Regions from separate parts of the Homo sapiens genome. Here all the other regions are linked to region 1. Evidence: fine-mapped expression QTL. A gene starts in region 1. Each other region holds a variant in brackets. All regions are shown on one strand. Distances are from middle to middle. Region 1 holds the start of OTOF (otoferlin). Region 2 overlaps OTOF (otoferlin). Region 3 overlaps OTOF (otoferlin).

Evidence for each region.
Region 2: its variant is fine-mapped to the expression of OTOF in whole blood (TOPMed, PIP above 0.99). The same link has a PIP of 0.9 or more in T cells and blood mononuclear cells.
Region 3: its variant is fine-mapped to the expression of OTOF in whole blood (TOPMed, PIP above 0.99). The same link has a PIP of 0.9 or more in blood mononuclear cells, lung, monocytes and monocytes after R848.

Annotation. Positions count from the first base shown.
Region 1 is chr2:26,554,665-26,561,764 of GRCh38, reverse strand. OTOF (otoferlin) reads left to right here and starts at 3,009. Exons shown (of 47, transcript NM_194248.3): 1 at 3,009-3,272. The coding sequence starts at 3,194. RefSeq lists enhancers at 2,062-2,854, 2,855-3,648.
Region 2 is chr2:26,474,808-26,480,573 of GRCh38, reverse strand. OTOF (otoferlin) reads left to right here. Exons shown (of 47, transcript NM_194248.3): 16 at 263-371; 17 at 921-1,101; 18 at 1,190-1,310; 19 at 2,825-2,925; 20 at 3,068-3,158; 21 at 3,286-3,402; 22 at 3,531-3,683; 23 at 4,257-4,446; 24 at 4,536-4,660; 25 at 5,081-5,215. Among named protein-coding and RNA genes, the nearest start is that of DRC1, 76 kb to the right of the region's middle. RefSeq lists enhancers at 1-116, 2,826-3,015. The variant G/A (reference allele first, on the strand shown) is at 3,194.
Region 3 is chr2:26,490,055-26,497,154 of GRCh38, reverse strand. OTOF (otoferlin) reads left to right here. Exons shown (of 47, transcript NM_194248.3): 9 at 2,082-2,213. Among named protein-coding and RNA genes, the nearest start is that of OTOF, 65 kb to the left of the region's middle. RefSeq lists an enhancer at 3,360-3,509. The variant T/A (reference allele first, on the strand shown) is at 3,426.

The DNA.
Region 1 (7,100 bases):
CCCTGTGTAATCCTCCCTGTGACTGCTTCAGCCTCCACATTTGAGTTTCTCCAGGGACCCTTACACCAGCCTTGGTGCCTAGGGCAGGCACAGGGCCTTCGGCTTTTCCATAAGGGGTGAGGGTATGGGGACAGCTTCCACGGTGCCAGGCTCTTGGTGACTCGGGTGGAGGCCCTGCCACCCCAGCTCCCTCTGCAGCAGTCCTGGTGTCATGAAGAAGCCTGGCAGTTCCCACTTTGTCTCCAGGTCTTGCTTCTTCCCTTCAGATGCCGGATGGAGAGCAGTGCTCCCCTCGCACTTCGGTTCTGTAAATGGCAGTGGATGAAGACCGCAGACGCTACTGGGTTCACAGAATGTGGCTGCCACCAGCATTCTCCAAAGACTTCCCCTGGCAAATGCCAATGAAATGAAGGGGAGCCACAGGCTTCCCAGAGGCTCAGGAAGCAGAAACACTGAGGCCTGGTTGGAAAGAGAGCTGTAGGCAAAGGAACGGCTGCAAACAAACTGGGTGGAAGGAAAATCCATCCATCCTTCAGAATGCAGTCATGTCTGTATTTTTCTAAATTCTCATTGGGGAACATGTTCTACAATAAGGAAAACATGAGTCAAAGACCCCCAGCCCTGGTGAGGTTGACCGCCTACTTCCTCCCCCATTCAGGGCTGCCCAGCCAGTCCTGCTGGTAAACCCACCACCCTGCCTTCCACCTGCCTGTGTTCTAGTCCATCTGTCTCGTCTGATTGGGATCCTGTGCCATCCATATCATATTCATCCCTGAATCTCAGCACCTGGCTCTGGAAAGAATTCAGTAAATGTTCATTACATAAATTATATACTCAGTTACCAAAATGGGTAACAGAAGAATGGAAATTAAAAAGTGGGTTCTGGCTGGGAACGGTGGCTCATGCCTGTAATCCCAGCATTTTGGAAGGCCGAGGCAGGCGGATCACTTGAGGTCAGCAGTTTGAGACCAGCCTAGCCAACATGGTGAAACCCCATCTCTACTAAAAATACAAACATTAGCTGGGCATGGTAGCACATGCTTATAGTCTGACCTATTTGGGAGGCTGAGGCAGGAGAATCGCTTGAACCCGGGAGGCAGAGGTTGCAGTGAGCCTAGATCACTCCACTGCCCTCCAGCCTGGGTGACAGAGTGAGACTCTCTCTCAAAAAAAAAAAAAAAAAAAGAGTGGGATCTGTCTCTTAGGTTTTCAGAAAGGCCAGCTGACTCCATTGAGAGCTGCTGAGTGGAATTGCTACCATTTTATGGATGTGGAAAGTGAGATTCAGCATAGATCAATGCCTTGGCTAGGGCAGGATCATGGGCTTTTTCCTAAAGATGCACAGGGTCTATAAGAGGCCTCATGAAATTCACTCCTTTCAGGGGAGGACCTCCAGAGAACCAAGGAAGAAGATATTTTCTGTTGTTGTTGTTGTACCTTGTAGTCACCAAGCCTTAAAAACACAGATCACCTGATGACCTCATGGATGGAAAATGCTAGTGAATTTAGGTGTTTTTTTTTTTAAGACATTAAACTTATCTAGCTTTTGAAAATTTAGCATTCATACTTGTATTCAATAAACAGAATACTCTAAGACATTTTTAAATTCAATATGATTAGATAAATGTGAGAAAGGTAAGCAAGAATTGGTTAGGAAAAAGTGCAAAGGAAAAAAACGTAAGTAGAAAAAGAAAAATAGGGCACAGTAGCAAGGAAATATCTAGAAGGAGGAAAGAAGGCTCTTGGGACATACTGTAGGTTATTTGGAATGCAGAATTCAAAAGAAGTAACCTCTTGTTACCATGCTGTGAAAAATTAGTATTTCTCTTTTTAACCTTTAGACTCTGTTTCAGGTAGATCCCTGAGCTCACTCTTTTATCCTTTCAACAGTAATTGGGCATCCTACGGTGCACAGGATACCATGTGGGGCTCTGGGGTAGAGGGATGCTGTGCTCCAGGGCCCTCCTGAGGTCAGGAGGGGAAAAGGCAAGGGAAGCAGCCCCAGGACTCAGTAAGATGAGAGGAGGCAGGAGCAGCACAGAGGAGGACCCCAACCCAGCTGGGGTGCGGGTACAGAGGCACCTCCAGGAGCAGGCACTCAAGCTGAGTCCAGGGTGGGGTGGAGGGCATTCCACCAAGAATGAATAGCAAGAACAAGGCTGCAGATGACCCTGCACAGATTCCAGCATCAGGGATTCTGGCCCCCAGCGTCCCTTTCCTTGGTGTATGCTGCTGGAAGACAGGAGGGGGCAGTTCTCTTTTGGTCCTTAGAAATTTCCCTATAGACATCCCTTCTCCTGCCCCTAGCAGCTTATAACAGCAGAAGGCCATTCAATTCTGCTCCTCTGGCTGGAAAGCAAACATCAGCCTGGCTTACCTTCGCTAGCCTGCCTGACCCCCAGCCTTGGGGTGGGGCTAGGTTAGTGCCCTGGATCCTTAAACATGGCCCCTGGTAGCACATAAGCCTCTGCTGCCTCCACAACCAGCCATCTCCATCATGCATGGCCTGGTCCTGAGCCTCCCCTCAGGCAGCAGCCCCAGCCTCTCTGCTTCCTGAGATTCAGAAACAGGGATCCCAGGGCAGGGCTCAGGGCCCAGCCTCTTGGGGGCACAGTCTCCAGCAGGGAAGAGGTGGGCGTAGGTGGACAAATACATTCCCTTCTTCTTGTAGTGTGCCCCTGTGGGTGGGAGTGCCCCCCGCCCCACATCCACCCTACCTATGCTCATGCCCACTCCTCTGTGCCCACTACTGGTGGCAGGGCTTGCTTAGCAGGGAAGCAGCAGAGCCCTGCAGAGGGGTGGGCAGAGCCTCCCTTCCAGGAGCTGGGAGAAGACACCTGAAGCTGGACAGAGCTTTATCTGGGAGCCGGCGGCTGCTGAATAATGAATTCCAACTCTGCCGCACTCCCAGGCTGCACATTGGGTGCACACACACACACACACACACGCACACACCGATACACACACGCTGGGCTGACAACTTGGAGGGGCGGGGGCTGTGAGGCTCTGTGAGTCGCTGCAGGAGCAGCTTAGCTCGGCTTGGTTGCCTTGGTCTCTGTGGGCAGCATCGGAGGGGGGTCGGGAGGAGGAGGAGGAGGCAGCGGCAGAGAAGAGAGAGGCGTGTGAGCCGTGCTCCACCGGCTAGCTCCTTCCCGCTGCTCCTGCCTGGCAGTGCCAGGCAGCCCACACCAGCATGGCCTTGCTCATCCACCTCAAGACAGTCTCGGAGCTGCGGGGCAGGGGCGACCGGATCGCCAAAGTGACTTTCCGAGGTAGGGAAGCCGCTGTCTCAGAGGGACGCCAGCTCTGAGAGCTGGACCAGCCCATGCTCTGGAGGTGGCCGGGGATAGGACAGGGCTGGGAGGATGGGTGGGAAAAGTTCTAGCAGGGGCTGGGGCGACGAGCCTTTTCACAGGTAGTCATCTGCCTGGGACTGACTGGCCATTGTGATTTCTGGAAAATCAGGGTCCCCTGTTCTTCCATGCCTGTGTCTCCTTGTGCTTGCCAACATGCCAGTTCCCCGGGCAGGGCACAGAGCCCTCTGCCTGGGGAGGCAGAAGTGAGGACCACATCCCTGAGCTCAGGGAGACCCAGGACCCCCTCCTTCTCTCTCTCTCCCTCTCCTGCAGGTTGATTTCCTTGAGCACAGGGTGGGGGCCGGGTATGGAGCCTGGGGCACCCAGGGTGACTGGGAGAAACCAGGCAGCCAGTAGCTCCCTGGGCCCCAGAGTGATGGGGGACACTGTTGGCTTCTTTTAGATCTATTCATGGGCGGGAACCCCGGGAGCCCCTCGCCTCTCTTCTGTCTGGTCTTTTCTCATCCTTTTCACTCCTGTATTCAGCGACCATTTATTATGATCTACTGTGTCCCAAGGATAGGGGTAGAAACACAGAGCTGAGCACAACCCAGCCCCAGCCCCAAGGAGCCTGCATCTGTTGGGCAGGCGTGGAACAAGCAGGACAGGTATGTGAGACAGAAGGTGGGGGTGCAGCATGCAAGCTACAGAAGCAGCACCCTCACCCAGGCTGGTGACCGGTGGTCAGGGAAGGCTTCCCGGAGGAAGTAACACTCAGCTAATACCCGAAGGACCAGCGGGTGGGAGCTAGGAGAGGAGGTAAGGACTGAGGAGGCAGAGGAAACAGTGTGCCCAGAGCTGAGAGAGGAGCTGAAACTCTGGAACTGAAAGAGGTTCCATGTGTCTACAGCTCAGAGAGGGTGCAGGAGCGGAGGCCAGAGAGCCAAGCAGGGCAAGGAGGCGAGGCTGGACCTGACCCCGGGGACAGCGGAGCCCCTGAGCATTTTAAGTGGGGAAAGGCAGGGCCAGGCTGACTCTGTCCTTCACCACCCACCTCTGCCTCTCCATGTGGTTGCTGCCCAGCCCTGAGGGTTGGGGGTACTTCTCACTAGACATGGCCCCTTCTCCCGAGAGAGGGGTCTGAGAGTGGGATGGGGACGAGGTGGTGAGAAGGGGGCAGAGAGGACCCCCCTATACTAAAGAGCAAAGTGAGCCTTGGGGCCCAGGCTGGACACAGTGTCTGCACCTCTGTTGGAAGGGATGGGAGAGACCATTGGCAGAACATTCCAGCAAGAGCCCTGGGGCACCCACATCACCTACCCAGAGGCCCTGGGATGCCCACATTGCAGCTTGTGTTCATAGGGACAGGCAGGGGTGGAGGTGATGGCAGTGGCCCTGCCGGCAGGCGGAGGTTAGGCAGGAGGGAGAGGGAGGTGTGGGCTGGGCTGCCTTTTGCCTCCCACCCCAACCCACTGACTGCTTTCTCTGCAGCACCCTGGATCTCCCTCTGTGTGCCACCTGCAGGCTCATGCTGGCTTTAGAAAAAGCAAATGTGTCCTTTCATCTGTGAAATGTGGCCCTGAGCTCCACGGGCAGCATAGTGTGGGGCGGTTAAGCTACAGGTTGCCATCCTGCTGCAGCTGTGCTGGAACGGTCCAGGCTGCACCGGACAGGCCCACTTGCAGGCCGAGAAACCAAGGTTCAGGGGTAGAACACTGCGCGTGGCATTCACGGAGGAGCTGAGGCACGGTGGTCCCAGCTCTCAGGACCTCATCCTGAGTACTCAATCTTGCAAGCTCTTTATCTGCTCCTGGGCCACCTGGGGGCCAGCACCTTGTCTGACACCCATCTTCTCCTTGGAGCAGTGAAGGGCTGGGCCTTTAGCCTCACTGACCACACAGGAATTAGTTTATTTGCAACCCTTGCTCTCTGGACTGAGTGGAGAAATCGCTTCCAAGCTCCACATTGGCAGGAGGTGGCCATGGGCAGAGCTCCTGGGGAAGGGGGCTGGGCAGCAGGAATAGGCAGATGACAAGCAGTTTCCAGAAAGTACCTTTATTACAACGAAAGATGCCTCAGCCGCTCACCTGTGTCATCTAGCAGTTCACAGTTGTAGGCGCCCCAAAAGACCAACACTGACCACAATTCAGAGGGAATGGACCCGCTCTACAATGTTCCTTAGCATCTCCCAGCACATGCAACCACTGGGGGCCAAGCAAGTCCTCTGCAGGGGGAAACAAGAAACTGGTAAACACGCAGAGGGAGACACTGGCCCCAGGCTCCCCAAGGCTTTTGAGTGAAAGTCAATGCCGGGGGAGGTGGTGAGGGAGCCCTTGGTGAGCTGTGCCCATTGGCAGTGGCCCTAGGTAGGCCAGAGCAGCTGGTTGAAATATGGCTTGACCTTCTGTGCTGTGCCATCCAAGACACTAAGGAAAGAGCCCTCCTGGGCTATTGTGGAAAAAGTTCTGGATATGGAGTCAGAAGCCCTAGATCCTACCTGGGTTCTGCCACTCACCCTCAGTTTCCTCATCTGTAAAATGGGCATGATAATAACACTCACTTCACTAGATTGCTTCAGGGAAACCATAGGTATGGAAGAGTTTGTGGGAAGAGTATTCAAATGGTCGATGTGTTTGTGAGGCAGCCATTCCCATTCTCCTTGGGAGCAGCTGCTGGCCCCTGAGGTATCTTCTCTCCAGACCAGCAGAGGGCCCCATGTGAGATATAAAGGGAAGAGGAGAGCACGTCTAAGGGGTTCCAGTCTGCCAGGAGAAGGCAGAGAGCCTGGACTCTGCTCTGTAGGAGCCTCTGCTGAGATGTTCCGCAGGAACCCAGGCAGGCAGACCCCCGAGACTCCTGTTCTCATCTGGCTGGGTGTGCACCAGCTTTGCCCGTGGCCACCTCTTTTCCCACTGCCCTCAGGCCAGTCGGCCCCTCGGTCAGTGCTCCCAGCCAGTTCTGTATCTAGCTCTTAGTTCTTACTGCCCCTGGCTGCTCCTAAGCTGGTGCTGCCCTGTTCATGCATTTCCTGAACATGCTAATATTTGTGCACAGGCCTGGGACCCTGAGGTGAAGGGGCCAGCCTGGCCCTCCAGGAGTCACAATCCCATTGGGTCAGACAGGAGATAGGGAGTCCTGGGCGAATCTCTATTGTGCCTGCAGGCCACAGGGCTCAGCTGGGTTTCTCATTAACAAAATGGAGACAGTGGTCCTCATTTAGCTCAGAGGCCTGCAGTTCCCAGGAGTAATCAAGAGTGGGCTATCTAAGAAGGAGCCATCTTGACCACAGGTTGCTACTCAAAGAGAGGAAGTATTAGCTTCAGGTATTTCCTTTATCAACTCCTGAGATAGTTCCCTACATCAATCACAGAGCCACAGAACGCAGGGTGTGAAGGGTCCCGAAGTTCTTCTAGTCCAACCTTCTGTCCAGTGCTGAGCACCAAGGCTGGGGGACCTGGACTGTAAGGGAACCAAGTGACAGACAGTCCAGGGCCAACCCTGATGTCTCCCTTCTCTTTCTATCCCCTGAGCCTTCTTGCCAAGACATGAGGTTTGGGGATTTTCTGTGTGAGATAAGAACATCTAAAGGCTGGATCTGGCTTCCACATAATTCACTGTGGCTGGAAATTGGCACAAAGGTTTGCAGGGCATCCCCCTCCACCTTTTCATTCTTACTCTTCTTCCCACCCTCCCCCTGATTCCCACCCTGCTATGTTCCCACTACATTCAACTTCCAGCCATTCCCAAAAGATACCACACCCTTTTACACCTCCAAACTTTGAGACATCGATCATATTTCTTCTG
Region 2 (5,766 bases), 81 kb after region 1:
AACGGCCGCCAGGTCTCACGATGGTGCCTCCCCTCTGCCCCTCTTCCCAGCCACGGCTGTCCCTGTGGTGTCTGCAGCCAGCCCTGCTTCCATGGATATCCAGGCTGGGGGGCCGTTGGGGTGTGGGCTGCCTGGCCCCAAAGCCGGGTGGGATGCCCCCACCATCCACCCCCACGGCCTGTCTGTGAGACGGAAGGAGGCCTGGCCCCCGACCTGCCACCCTTACTCAAGCTCAGGAACGCTTTGAACTGCCTCCCCACAGAGCTGTGCAGGTAAAATGGAAGAATTCTTTCTCTTTGGAGCCTTCCTGGAGGCCTCAATGATCGACCGGAGAAACGGAGACAAGCCCATCACCTTTGAGGTCACCATAGGTGAGTGCTGGGCCCACGGGGGCTTCGGGCCTAGGTGAGTGCTGGGCCCACGGGGGCTTCAGGCCTAGGCTGCAGGTGGTAAGTGTGAGGCTCTGCACCTCAGCCCTGTCCTCACTCTTGTAGGGAACGTTGACCCCTTTCCCCTGAGAGGCCTCAAGCACCCACAAAACACCTTTGTGTGTGCATGGGGTGGACCACGCCCCATAAAGGGGCCAACCCTCAGCTCCACCTACAGGGTGAGGCTGTGTTTGGGACCTGGGGCAGAGGGCAGGGAGAAGCCCTTCCCGGGGCTGGAGAGGAGAGAGTGGGAACTCAGGCCACAGCCTGGGCCAGGGCTGGGCCTCGCACTCAGGCGTCATGAGGACTCCCTGACTCTCAGCGGAGTGGGGACACGGGCTAATGCTCTCTGGCTAATGATGTGTCACGTCTGAGCCCCATTCCCTGACTCTCCCTCTCCCCTTTCCCAAACCCAAGGCAGCACCGGATTGGACGGTGGGAGGGGCCTGGTGGGGAATGCACTCTAGGCCTTCTGGGCCCATTCTGCTCCAGGCAACTATGGGAACGAAGTTGATGGCCTGTCCCGGCCCCAGCGGCCTCGGCCCCGGAAGGAGCCGGGGGATGAGGAAGAAGTAGACCTGATTCAGAACGCAAGTGATGACGAGGCCGGTGATGCCGGGGACCTGGCCTCAGTCTCCTCCACTCCACCAATGCGGCCCCAGGTCACCGACAGGTGGGCCCAGCCTCCCATCCTCCTGTGGCCTGGCCCTCCCACCTCCCTGGGCCCCCAAGACCTCACCTCCCGCCTCTGCCCACCCCAGGAACTACTTCCATCTGCCCTACCTGGAGCGAAAGCCCTGCATCTACATCAAGAGCTGGTGGCCGGACCAGCGCCGCCGCCTCTACAATGCCAACATCATGGACCACATTGCCGACAAGCTGGTCAGGGCCAGGCCAGGGGCCAGCAGGGGTGGGGTCCTGGGGGAGACGGCGCTGTCAGAGGGCCTTCCCTGGAACACACAAAGCTGGTCTGCCCAGGGGGCTGCAGGAACGGCCCCAGCAGGACCTCTGTTCCCATTCTCAGCCCCAGGTCCCAGGGCACAGACAAGGACAGGAGCCACCTCTAGTCACTCAGCCTCCAGTGAATCCTGGGGCAGGAGTGTTGGGTTCCCTGATTTTTCCAGAAATCTTAAAAGCAAGGCTAGGGAGACAGGTGTGGTGGCTCACGCCTGTAATCCCAACACTTTGGGAGGCCAAGGCAGGTGGATCACCTGAGGTCAGGAGTTCGAGACCATCCTGGCCAACATAGTGAAATGCCGTCTCTACTAAAAATGCAAAAATTAGCGGGGCTTGGTGGCGGGCACCTGTAATCCCAGCTATTCGGGAGGCTGAAGCAGGAGAATCGCTTGAACCCGTGAGGCGGAGTTTGCAGTGAGCCAAGATGGCGCCACTGCACTCCAGCCTGGGCAACCGAGCAAAACTTCATCTCAAAAAATAAAATAAAATAAAATAAAACAAAATAAAAAAGCAAGGCTAGGGAAGGGAAATGGGGAAAAGGGAGAAGCGAGCAGTGTCTGAAGCTCAGGAGCTGCCCCCTCCTCCTCTGCCCACCCCTCTCCCCCCATGAGCCATGGGCACTGACTGGGCGAGGAGTGCAGCTGTTGGCATGAGACCTCCTTCTCCCCAGCCTGGGGAAGCAGGGACCAGCAGATAATCCCGCCCTTCCCTGAGCTGTTGCTGTTCCCTGTTGAAGTTCCCTGAAGCTCAGCCAGCTCATATTTTATAAAAATGAATTAAAACCTCCAAAAAAATCAAGGCTAATATGAGGTCTGCTCCCAGCCCCCTGCCAATGTCCTCCTTGTCATCCCTGTCTTGTGACTATAACCACAATTAAAGCCCATAGCCTTTGCAGTGTGACCTGGGTCTGCAGTTATCTGCAAGGCTTCCCCCTAAGGAGCTGGGGTACAAGCTGACCTGTGTTTCCTGTGGGACCTGGGTCTCACAGCCCTCCCAGTGCTCTCAGAGCCAGAGCCACTCCCTCTTCCCCCAGGCATCTGTTCCCATCCCCTGCCACAGGCTCCAGCATTCTGGAGTGACGTCAGGATCTTGGCACATCCAGTCCTAGGGTTTCCCTCTGTCTCTGGCCAGCCCTGAGCCCCGTAGCCGTGAGTTCTGCCCAGGCCCTGTGAGCTCACCAGAGCCACAGACTCACAGCCCAGAGGTGGCTTCTTCCTTCAGGAACTGAAGAACCCCCATGAACACCAACATCTCCAGGTTCTGAGAACAGAACCTGGGAAATTGATGACTTCCTCATGATGACCGATACTCAGGATGGCCCTAGCGAGAGCTCCCAGATCATGAGGTCCCTCACTCCCCTGATCAACAGGGAGGAGGCATTTGGGGAGGCTGGGGAGGCGGGGCTGTGGCCCAGCATCACCCACACTCCTGATTCACAGGAAGAAGGCCTGAACGACATACAGGAGATGATCAAAACGGAGAAGTCCTACCCTGAGCGTCGCCTGCGGGGCGTCCTGGAGGAGCTGAGCTGTGGCTGCTGGTGAGAAGGGAGGGGCGGCAGGTGGGGGGAGGATGAGGCGGAACTGGACAAAGGGGACCCTGCCAGGGCTGGGCAGATGAGGAAGAATCTACAGAGCCCCTGCTGGTCAGGCTCGCTAAACCCCGGCTCGCCCTACCCCCAGCCGCTTCCTCTCCCTCGCTGACAAGGACCAGGGCCACTCATCCCGCACCAGGCTTGACCGGGAGCGCCTCAAGTCCTGCATGAGGGAGCTGGTGAGGACGCAACTGGACGGCGGGGGCTGGAGGGA[G/A]GGCCTGGTTGTGAGAAGGTGTCACAACCCCCTTTGTCATGGCCCGAGCTGTCCCCCAGTTGCTGGGTTCACTGACACCCCCTCCTTCGCAGGAAAACATGGGGCAGCAGGCCAGGATGCTGCGGGCCCAGGTGAAGCGGCACACGGTGCGGGACAAGCTGAGGCTGTGCCAGAACTTCCTGCAGAAGCTGCGCTTCCTGGCGGACGAGGTGCGGCCCAAGGGGTCGGGGCTTTGCCTCATCCAGGGCTGGCTCTCTGGGGCCCCTCAGGATCAGGGGGCTCAATCAGGAGGCTAGACCCCCTTACCCACTGCCCCTGGCCACCCCCCAACCCCCAGCCCCAGCACAGCATTCCCGACATCTTCATCTGGATGATGAGCAACAACAAGCGTGTCGCCTATGCCCGTGTGCCCTCCAAGGACCTGCTCTTCTCCATCGTGGAGGAGGAGACTGGCAAGGACTGCGCCAAGGTCAAGACGCTCTTCCTTAAGGTGCTGGAGGGGGCAGGATGGATGGGGGCCTGGGTCCTTTCAGGGGAGCAGCAGCCCCCACCTGGGGCTGGAAGCCTGAGTGACAGGGTGGGGCCTTCAAGCAGCAGGTGCTCAGAGAAGAGCCAAGAATGGGAAGGACGTGGGGGAAGGGGTGGGGAAGGAGGTGGGGGAAGGGGTGGGGGAAGGGGTGGGGAAGGAGGTGGGGGAAGGGGTGGGGGAAGGGGTGGGGGAAGGGGTGGGGAAGGAGGTGGGGGAAGGGGTGGGGGAAGGGGTGGGGAAGGAGGTGGGGGAAGGGGTGAGGGAAGGGGTGGGGGAAGGGGTGGGGAAGGAGGTGGGGGAAGGGGTGGGGAAGGAGGTGGGGGAAGGGGTGGGGAAGGAGGTGGGGGAAGGGGTGGGGAAGGGGGCATGACGGCCCCCTGCCCATCCTCCTGCCTCCACCGGACCCCAGCCCAGCGGGATGGCTGTGAAGGGGCAGGGCAGCTCTGACCAGGGCCTCTGCCGGCCCCTGCCCCTTCCCCACCTCTTGGGCCCTGGCAGCCGTCAGGCTCCTGGTGACCCCATGCCCACCCCCAGCTGCCAGGGAAGCGGGGCTTCGGCTCGGCAGGCTGGACAGTGCAGGCCAAGGTGGAGCTGTACCTGTGGCTGGGCCTCAGCAAACAGCGCAAGGAGTTCCTGTGCGGCCTGCCCTGTGGCTTCCAGGAGGTCAAGGCAGCCCAGGGCCTGGGCCTGCATGCCTTCCCACCCGTCAGCCTGGTCTACACCAGTGAGTGAGGACCCCTCACTCGAAGCCTCACCTGGGAGGGGGCCGGAGGGGCTGCCCATCCTGGAACCTCAGGCTGCCCTTCCCCACAGAGAAGCAGGCGTTCCAGCTCCGAGCGCACATGTACCAGGCCCGCAGCCTCTTTGCCGCCGACAGCAGCGGACTCTCAGACCCCTTTGCCCGCGTCTTCTTCATCAATCAGAGTCAGTGCACAGAGGTGAGGGCCTGGGAGGAGGGAGTGGCTCTGGCTTTGAGAGCACCAGAAGCCTGTGAGCCTGTGGGGACTGGAGCCTGTGGGGCCTGTGAGCCTGTGGGGCCTGGAGCCACAGGTCAGCCAGTGCCCCGGTTTCTCAGGGGAAGCCCTGCAGATAACTGCAGCAGACGCGGGTCACACTGGAAAGGCTACGGGCTTTAGCTGTGGTTATATTCACAAGACAGGGACGACAAGGAGGACATTGGCAGGGGGCTTGGGCCAAACCTCATATTAGCCTTGATTTTAAGATTTCTGGAAGAATCAAGACACCTGTCACTCCTGCCCCCAGGTTCCGTGGAAGCTGAGTGAGTAGGGGTGGCTTCTGTTTGTGCATCTGCCCCCCCCTCTGTCACTTGTCCCCTGTCTCCCCATCCCATGCTGCAGGTGCTGAATGAGACCCTGTGTCCCACCTGGGACCAGATGCTGGTGTTCGACAACCTGGAGCTCTATGGTGAAGCTCATGAGCTGAGGGACGATCCGCCCATCATTGTCATTGAAATCTATGACCAGGATTCCATGGTATGGGTGGGCTCTGGTGCCAGGGACCCCAGCAGCACCACACCTGGCCCTTGTTCCCTGCACTCCACCTGCGCTGAGGCTGTGCCCTCACCTCCGCCACCCACCTGCAGAGCTCCTTGGCCAGGTGCTGGCTGGGAAGCTGGGAGTGGGGGCTGACATCTAGCTCCTCCTGCCTGCTTGCGGCAGCCTGACCCCTTCCCAGGCCAGCACATCCTCACCTCCTGTCTCCTACAGACTGAGCCCTGGAGGTGTGCCAGCAAGTCCTGCTGTCACTAGCCTCCCCACCCCAGGGCTCCCCGACCCCTGCCCTCACCTACCACAACCAGTAACAGCCTTGCCATCCTCCGTGGAGGTTCTGGAGCAGGGAGTAAGGGATTGGGGTGACCCCCGAGAGTTAGCGAGCCACCTTCTCACATACCACCTCAGCTGCTGAGGTGCCCAGATAGCCCTGGACTAGAGGTAGGAGGACCTCATGTCTAGTCCTGAGCCGGGCATCTGCCATTTACTGACTGCTTGGCCTTGAACAAGTCTTTGGTGGGCCCTGAGACTTG
Region 3 (7,100 bases), 65 kb after region 1:
CTCCAGCCGGGGCAACAGAGTGAGACTCTGTCTCAAAAAAAAAAAAAAAAAAAAAAAAAAAAAAAGAAGAATGTACAGAGGTCCATGCTTATTCTAGCTGGGGAAAGGCTTTTCTTGTTAAAACACACGTTTGAGAGAGGCAAGTGAATCAATCATTCTAAGTATCATGCACAAGCTCCCTACTTGAGAGATCAACCGCTTAGCTGAAGGGAGATTCTGTTGGGGTCACTCACATTTTGTAGAGCTTTCTGCTGTTTAGGATGCATTTTGACACACATGATCTCATTTAACCTGCATACAACCTTACAGGTAGCTGGTGTCTCTGCTTGTAACTGAAAAACACAAGGCTATGTGGTCATTTGCCCTCACACCTGGCAACATGTCAGGTCTGGGGTTCAATCCCAAGTTCAGCAACCCCCAGTACATGCCTCTGTCTATCTTAACATGGCCACCCTGACAGGAACTGACACCTCCAAATCCAAATGAGACCTGATGGCTTAAAATGAGGGTTCGGGAAAAGTAGTAGTGATGTCAAAAATTACTGGTGCTCTGGCTCTCTCTCTCTCTGTCTCTCTCTCTGTCCTTATATCTTTTTAGCTTAAAAAGCCAATAATTGGCTGGTCACAGTGGCTCGTGCCTGCATTCCCAGCACTTTGGGAGGCCAAGGCAGGCAGATCACCTGAGGTCAGGAGTTCAAGACCAGCCTGGCCAACATGGTAAAACCCAATCTCTACTAAAAAAAAAATACAAAAATTAGCCGGGCGGGGTGGCATATGCTTGTAATCCCAGCTACTTGGGAGGCTGGGGCAGAAGAATCGCTTGAACCCAGGAGGTGGAGGCTGCAGTGAGCTGAGATCATGCCACTGCACTCCAGGCCTGAGTGACAGAGAGAGACTCAGTGTGAAAAAAAAAAAAAAGCCATTAATCATTTGTGGTAAGCTCCACAAGGAAGAATTTGTTGCAATCCCACCTGTGCCTGGCTCCAGCAGGTTTCCAGGAAACATTTGTTGCATGAATGAACAACTGAAATAGGGCTTCCCAGGATATAAGTAAGATTGCAGAGCTGGACGCCACATAAAGGACACAGCAGAGTGCACACAACATACAATCAGTAGGCTGAAAAAGGCGGCTCAGGCAGGCACCAAAGCCGCACTGGCCATACAAACAAAGAAATTCAGCAAACAATGTGGAAAGGGGGGGGAGCCAAATTCCAGAAATGCAAAGACGTATCAGAGGCCTGCAGGCTTACATGAGAATTCCTGGAGCAGGAAATTAAATGCAAGTTAATGAAGACTTTGAAAGCTTTATTCCTGAGTGCATGAAACCTGTGACATGGGTTTGGCAGCTCTTTCTGAAGCAGAGCCATCGACGCTGGGGAAGAACGCAGGGCACTTGGCATCACCTAGGAGCTTTAAAAATACAGATTCCAGCCTGGGCACGGTGGCTCATGCCTGTAATTCCAGCACTTTGGGAGGCCGAGGCAGACAGATCACTTGAGGCCGGGAGTTTGAGAACAGCCTGGCCAACATGGCAAAACCCCATCTGTATAAAAAAGACAAAAATTAGCCCGGTGTGGTAGTGCATGCCTGTAATCCCAGCTACTCAGGAGGCTGAGGCAGAAGAATCACTTGAACCCAGGAGGCAGAGGGTTGCAGTGAGCCGAGATCATGCCACTGCACTCCAGCCTGGGCAACAGAGTAAGACTCCATCAAAAAAATAAAAATACAGATGCCTGAGCTGCATGTCCAGGATTGGATTGGATTGGTCTGGAGGTGGCCTGGGCATCAGTGTTTTTAATGCCTCTCCCTCCCTTCGGCCCAGCAAGTTAAGTCTAGTGAACACTGACTTAGAGGTTAGCCAACTCATACTCCTCTATAAATGAAGACACTTGAGGCATAGAAGGAGAAAGAGCCAGGATCACCCAGCAGATGAGAGGCAGTGGTCAGAATGGAGCCCAGGAGGCCAGTGCTGGCTCCCGGGCCCTCCCTCTGACCCTGCTGCCCCAGCCCCTGGACCCCTGCGGGACCAGGCTCCTAGGCTCAGGCAGCTTTCCTTCTGGCTCCCCCTTCTCCTGCCTGCAGGTCAGCATCACGGTGATCGAGGCCCGGCAGCTGGTGGGCTTGAACATGGACCCTGTGGTGTGCGTGGAGGTGGGTGACGACAAGAAGTACACATCCATGAAGGAGTCCACTAACTGCCCCTATTACAACGAGGTCAGTGGCCCTGTGGGGAAAGGAGCCTCTGTAAATATGGCAGGAGGGTGGCCCCAGCCCTCCCCAGGAGAAATAGGAGTGGCTGGAAGTCAAGGAGCACACAGGGCTACCAGCAGGGGTGATCCACCCTGTTACAACCCCCAGGACACTGACAAACAGAGCCACATCTTCTGAATCCTCTGAACCCCCCAGTCTAGAGCACAGGCCGACACTGGTCTTTGAAGCGTACACCACCCGGGTGCTCCTGGGCAGACCCCAGCAGTGCCTGTGAAAGAACCCCCCCCCACCCCACTCCCCAAGAGGCCTGGTTCCCACTGTTTCCCAGGCCAGAGCCCAAGGACAGGGCTGCCTCATTCCAACCCATGGTGGCACTGGCACCATTAGTAAGCACTTTCTACCAGCCAGGCATGCTCCTAAATGCTTCTGAACTGGACCATCCAAAGTTGTCACTATCAATTCCCTTTTACACAAGGGGACAGTGAGACTTCTGAAGGCAGACCTTGTCCAACCTCACAGTGCCAGCATCGCCCTTGGCGTGCTAGTGGGGTTCTGCCCTCTTGGCTCGGCTCCTTCATGGTTGCCTAAACTTCTGCGGGCTTCTCTCCAGAGCACTGGCCTTGATTTTAGGGTGTGAAAGAGAAAACATTTGGTACCCACTCCTATTCTTTCCAGCCATTTGAGGCCACATCAAGGGTGAGGGACCTCAGAGACCTTCTACTTTAATCTCCCCATCTTACAGAGGAGGATACTGAGGCCTCCATATGGAAGGGCCTTGCCCACAATCTCAGAGAGTGTTGCTGATAGAGCAGGGGCCAGGCTGCCCACCCAGCTTCCAGCCCAGGGCTCTGGCCACCATCACAAATATGGCACCTTGGTTCCCAGGCTCCAGATGGGACCCCATCATAATCAGCTCTGGGGAGGGATGTGAGAAATAGAGAAATACACTCACTCATCAAAACCCAAAGAATGACTTAGAGGCATGAAGAACAGCGAAAGTGAGACTTTTAATAACGGTCTTGCAAGATGGAGTGTCTGGTAGGCAGGCACCCCTGGGGCAGTCACAACAGGAATTTATCTCCTAGTGTGCAAGTCCCTCCCCCACTTCCCCATTGGTTGAGCACTATGGGGTTACAATCTTCCCTGACGTCGCCTAAGTTTCATTTTCCCCCTTACAAGGTTATACCCCGCTCCCCTTCGATTTCCCCACTTAAG[T/A]TTCGATTTCCCAATAACAAAACTTTCTTCCCTTTCATGGGCTGACCCCTCCTCTACATTCTGTTCGCTTATTGTGTCCTTCTAGGTGCATGAGCCGTGTGGTTTGTTGCATTCGCAGGTTGGATGCCAGTACTTAGACTTATCCTGCCTTGAAAATGGACCATTGAAAATGTTTTCTCACCAGGATGCCCAGGCCTTTCCCAGATGCCTGATCACACATCAGACTAACCCAGAAGCCACAGGCCTGGGCCCTGCCATCCCTTTCCTGGAGGGTTCCCCAGTCTGTTTCTCCTGGTGGCTCCAGGCAGTGAGGGGTGCCAGGCTGTCCCAAGTAAGGCAGCTGAGTCCCGTACCCTGAGGTGGGTGAGGGCTGAGGTGCCCCCTGTAGCTTGGGGGAGGGCATTTCTCAGGCAGCTCTGAGAGTCCTCAGACTGTGCACCTGCAGGAAGAAAACCCAGGCCCACCTCTGCCCTTCAGCCCAGGCCTGGCCGAACTCTCCTTTGTGACCACAAATTGACTCTGCTCTCCCAGCTGCTTTCCCACAGGCCCCCCGAGCTGGACAACCTGCTCAGGACCCCTCCAGCCCCAAGGACATTCAGGATTGACATCTCTGGCCTTACGTTAGGACACATCCTGACTGGACAAGTCTCCGCCTAGATAAGCATCTATGTCCCCAAGACAGGCATGGAGACAGGTCCCTGTGGCCCCGGTGGTTACTTGATAGCAGTGAAGCCACTTCTGCTAACTTAAGGGATCTCCCTCCACCAGGCCCACACACCTTGGCTTTCATTCAAATTACTTCCTCTTTCCCAAGGGCACAGAGCTGCTCTCCCTACTCTGTGGCTCCCCCAGAAAACTCCTACTCACCCGGCAGGGCCCAGCTCAAATGTTCTTGCTACTGAGCAGCCTTGCCTGCTCTGTCTGGGTCAGAGGTCAGCACTCCCCTTTCTCTGCAGTGTTAATGTCCTGGAGTTGAGGTTGGTCCTCCGTGTCTCTGTCCTGCTGGTGGACTGGAGGCTCCCAGTCTCCTGCCTCGCTATTTGTTCAGAGCCAGGCATGTACTCGGAGGGGTTCAGTAACACTCACCCAAAGGAAGACACAAACATCCACTGAGCATCTGCCGCACACCAGACAGTGGCACGTGGGGCAACATGGAGGCTGCCGAGATGAAGGAGGCACAGTTTCCGCCCTGCGCAGGTCCCCTCCTTGTTTCAGCCTAGAATCTTTCTAAATTCCCTATTTACTTCCTCTAAGACTGACTATTCATTCTGCTCATCTTTGGACAATCTTAAATGTGTTTCTGATCACATTTTTGTTCTTTTTCACAAACCCAAATAGCTCTGATTTTGTTTCTGTTTCCTCTAAACTAGGGTTTCTCAAACTCAGCACTATGGTATCTTGGACTGGATAATTGTGGTGGGATCGTCCTGTGCTGTGTAGGATGTGAGCAGCATCCCTGGCCTCTACCCAGTAGATGCCAATAGCAACTCCCCTTAGTTACAGCTACCAAGTTTCCAGACATGCCAAATGTCCCCTGAAATCGCCCTCAGTTGAGACCACCATTCTAAACTATCTTACTATGATTCCTTCCAGCCCCAAATCAGCCTTTCCAGCCCCAAAGCTTTGTTTCCCTTTTCTTCTCTTTCTATGCCACATTCCTTTTCAATGAAGGACATCCTCCTCGTCGTGGGAATGTATTATTTCTGACTAATTATCTGAGCTGGTAGGAACCTTCCTTTGGCTCCATTAAAACAACAGAGGGAGGTGGGAACAATCAACATGACTTAGGTATCTAAGCTATTACAAAAGGAAAATATGCTCAGGAAATAACAGGAATTTGATTGCAGACAGCTCAGAGAGTTCGGGATTCTGGCTCTAGCTCAGCTAGCTCGCTCCCCTGGGGCTGGCACATCTGCGGGCACCTGGCCTGATCACCCTGCCTGGCCCTGAGCCTGCCTGTGTGCAGGGAAGCTCAAAACCTTTGCCCTTCCGGAACAAGCTGGCCATTCACAAACCAGACTAAGGCTCCTTTCCTGTGTGTCCTGTGTGTGCATCTGGCCCCGCCCTGGGCATCTTGGGAGCGCCACCATCCTTCCTCCTGCTGAAAATCCACCTCTCCCCTTTGCCTTGGATCCTTCTCTTTCTACAGCTCAAAGAACCTGGCATTGCACAGCCCAACTCTGTCTTTGTTTTTCTTCCAGCCCCTTCTTCCTTGCCTATAAGGTGTTCTACTCCAGCATATGCTAAGTACAACCATGAAGACCCATGTGTGCTCAAGGACAGGAACTAGGAGTCTGTCACCTCTCTCTGGGCCTTTCCTCATTCCCACACACTTCTCCAGTGACCTCCTTTTTCCCTCCACCCCTCCACAGTCAGACCACTTGGGTTGTCCTCACTTCCTCCCCCCAGTCACCCCTCAATCTCTGCAGGGTTTCTGCCTCCAGATGTCATTGACACTGCTCTCCTCAAGGTCACCAAGGACATTGCTGTTCCTGAGTATAATGTCCATGTCATCCTCCTCTCCCTTGATCACCCAGTTTCTTTCATCCCGCTGCCTGCTGCTCCTCTTGGGGGCCCCTCACGCCACTCTCCTGCTTCCCCTGTCTCTCCAGCTCCATCTCCCCGGCCTAACTTCTTGGCTGAAAGGCTGTGTCTTCTTGGAGCCCTGACCTGGGCCTGCTTCCCCTCCCATGCTCTCCCCAGGTATCTCCTCCATCTCCAAGGTGTCAGTTACCATCTTGTGCTGACGATTCCCAAATCCATATCCCCACCCGCCTCCCCAGAGCTTCAGAACTCTGGCCAGCACACCCTGGGCCTGTTAGTGTCATGCACAGCTGTCGCTGCTTGCTATGTGCTTACCGTGGTGCACACCTGTGTTAAAGACTTGACCAGGGTGTCTCATTGCAACTTCACAACCACACCTTGAAGCCCCCCAAGTGAATGGCACCCCTGGAGCAGTTCAGCACGACAGCCCTGGATCATATCTCCACATTCATAGGATAATAGGTAAACTGAGGCTCAGGCAAGAAAGTGAGTGATCTAGCAGTAACAGCCAGGTGGGGCTGGCTCTGAAGCTGGCTTTACCCTCAGTGCTCAAGGGCCAGCCCCCAGCAGCCAGGAGCACGTTCTCTTCGGACATTTACCCCAAGCACATTGGAAATATTTCTCCCTTCTCCCCCACCACAGTTCACCAAAGCAGCAGCCCCTCTACTCACTGCCCCACACCCTCATCCTCAGCACCTGCACACCCAGGCCAGGGGAAGAGATGGGGACTGCAAATGTGCATGGCAGCCCACAGCACCAAAGGACAGTGCACACCCATGGCATTTCACATCGACTGCCAACTAAGTGCTTGGCACACCATGGTTCATCTGCTCTGAGGCTTGCGTTATTTTACAGTTTCACCTCTCTGAATTTGGGATGTGTCTCCTAGGCAGCCTTGTGGCTTCATGGCAATGTCCATGTGGCTTATTAAACCGTAGTATATCTTACAGCCAGTAGCCACTTTAGATTTGGTAAAATATGTTACACTGTCTCATCAGAGCCTCATAACAAGACTCTGAGGTGGGTGTCATTATCCCCATTTCACAGCTCAAAAAACTGAGGTTCAGAGAATGTGTTGCTCAAGGCCACACAGTTAAGAAGGTGCAGAGCGGGGACTAGAACCCAGGTCTG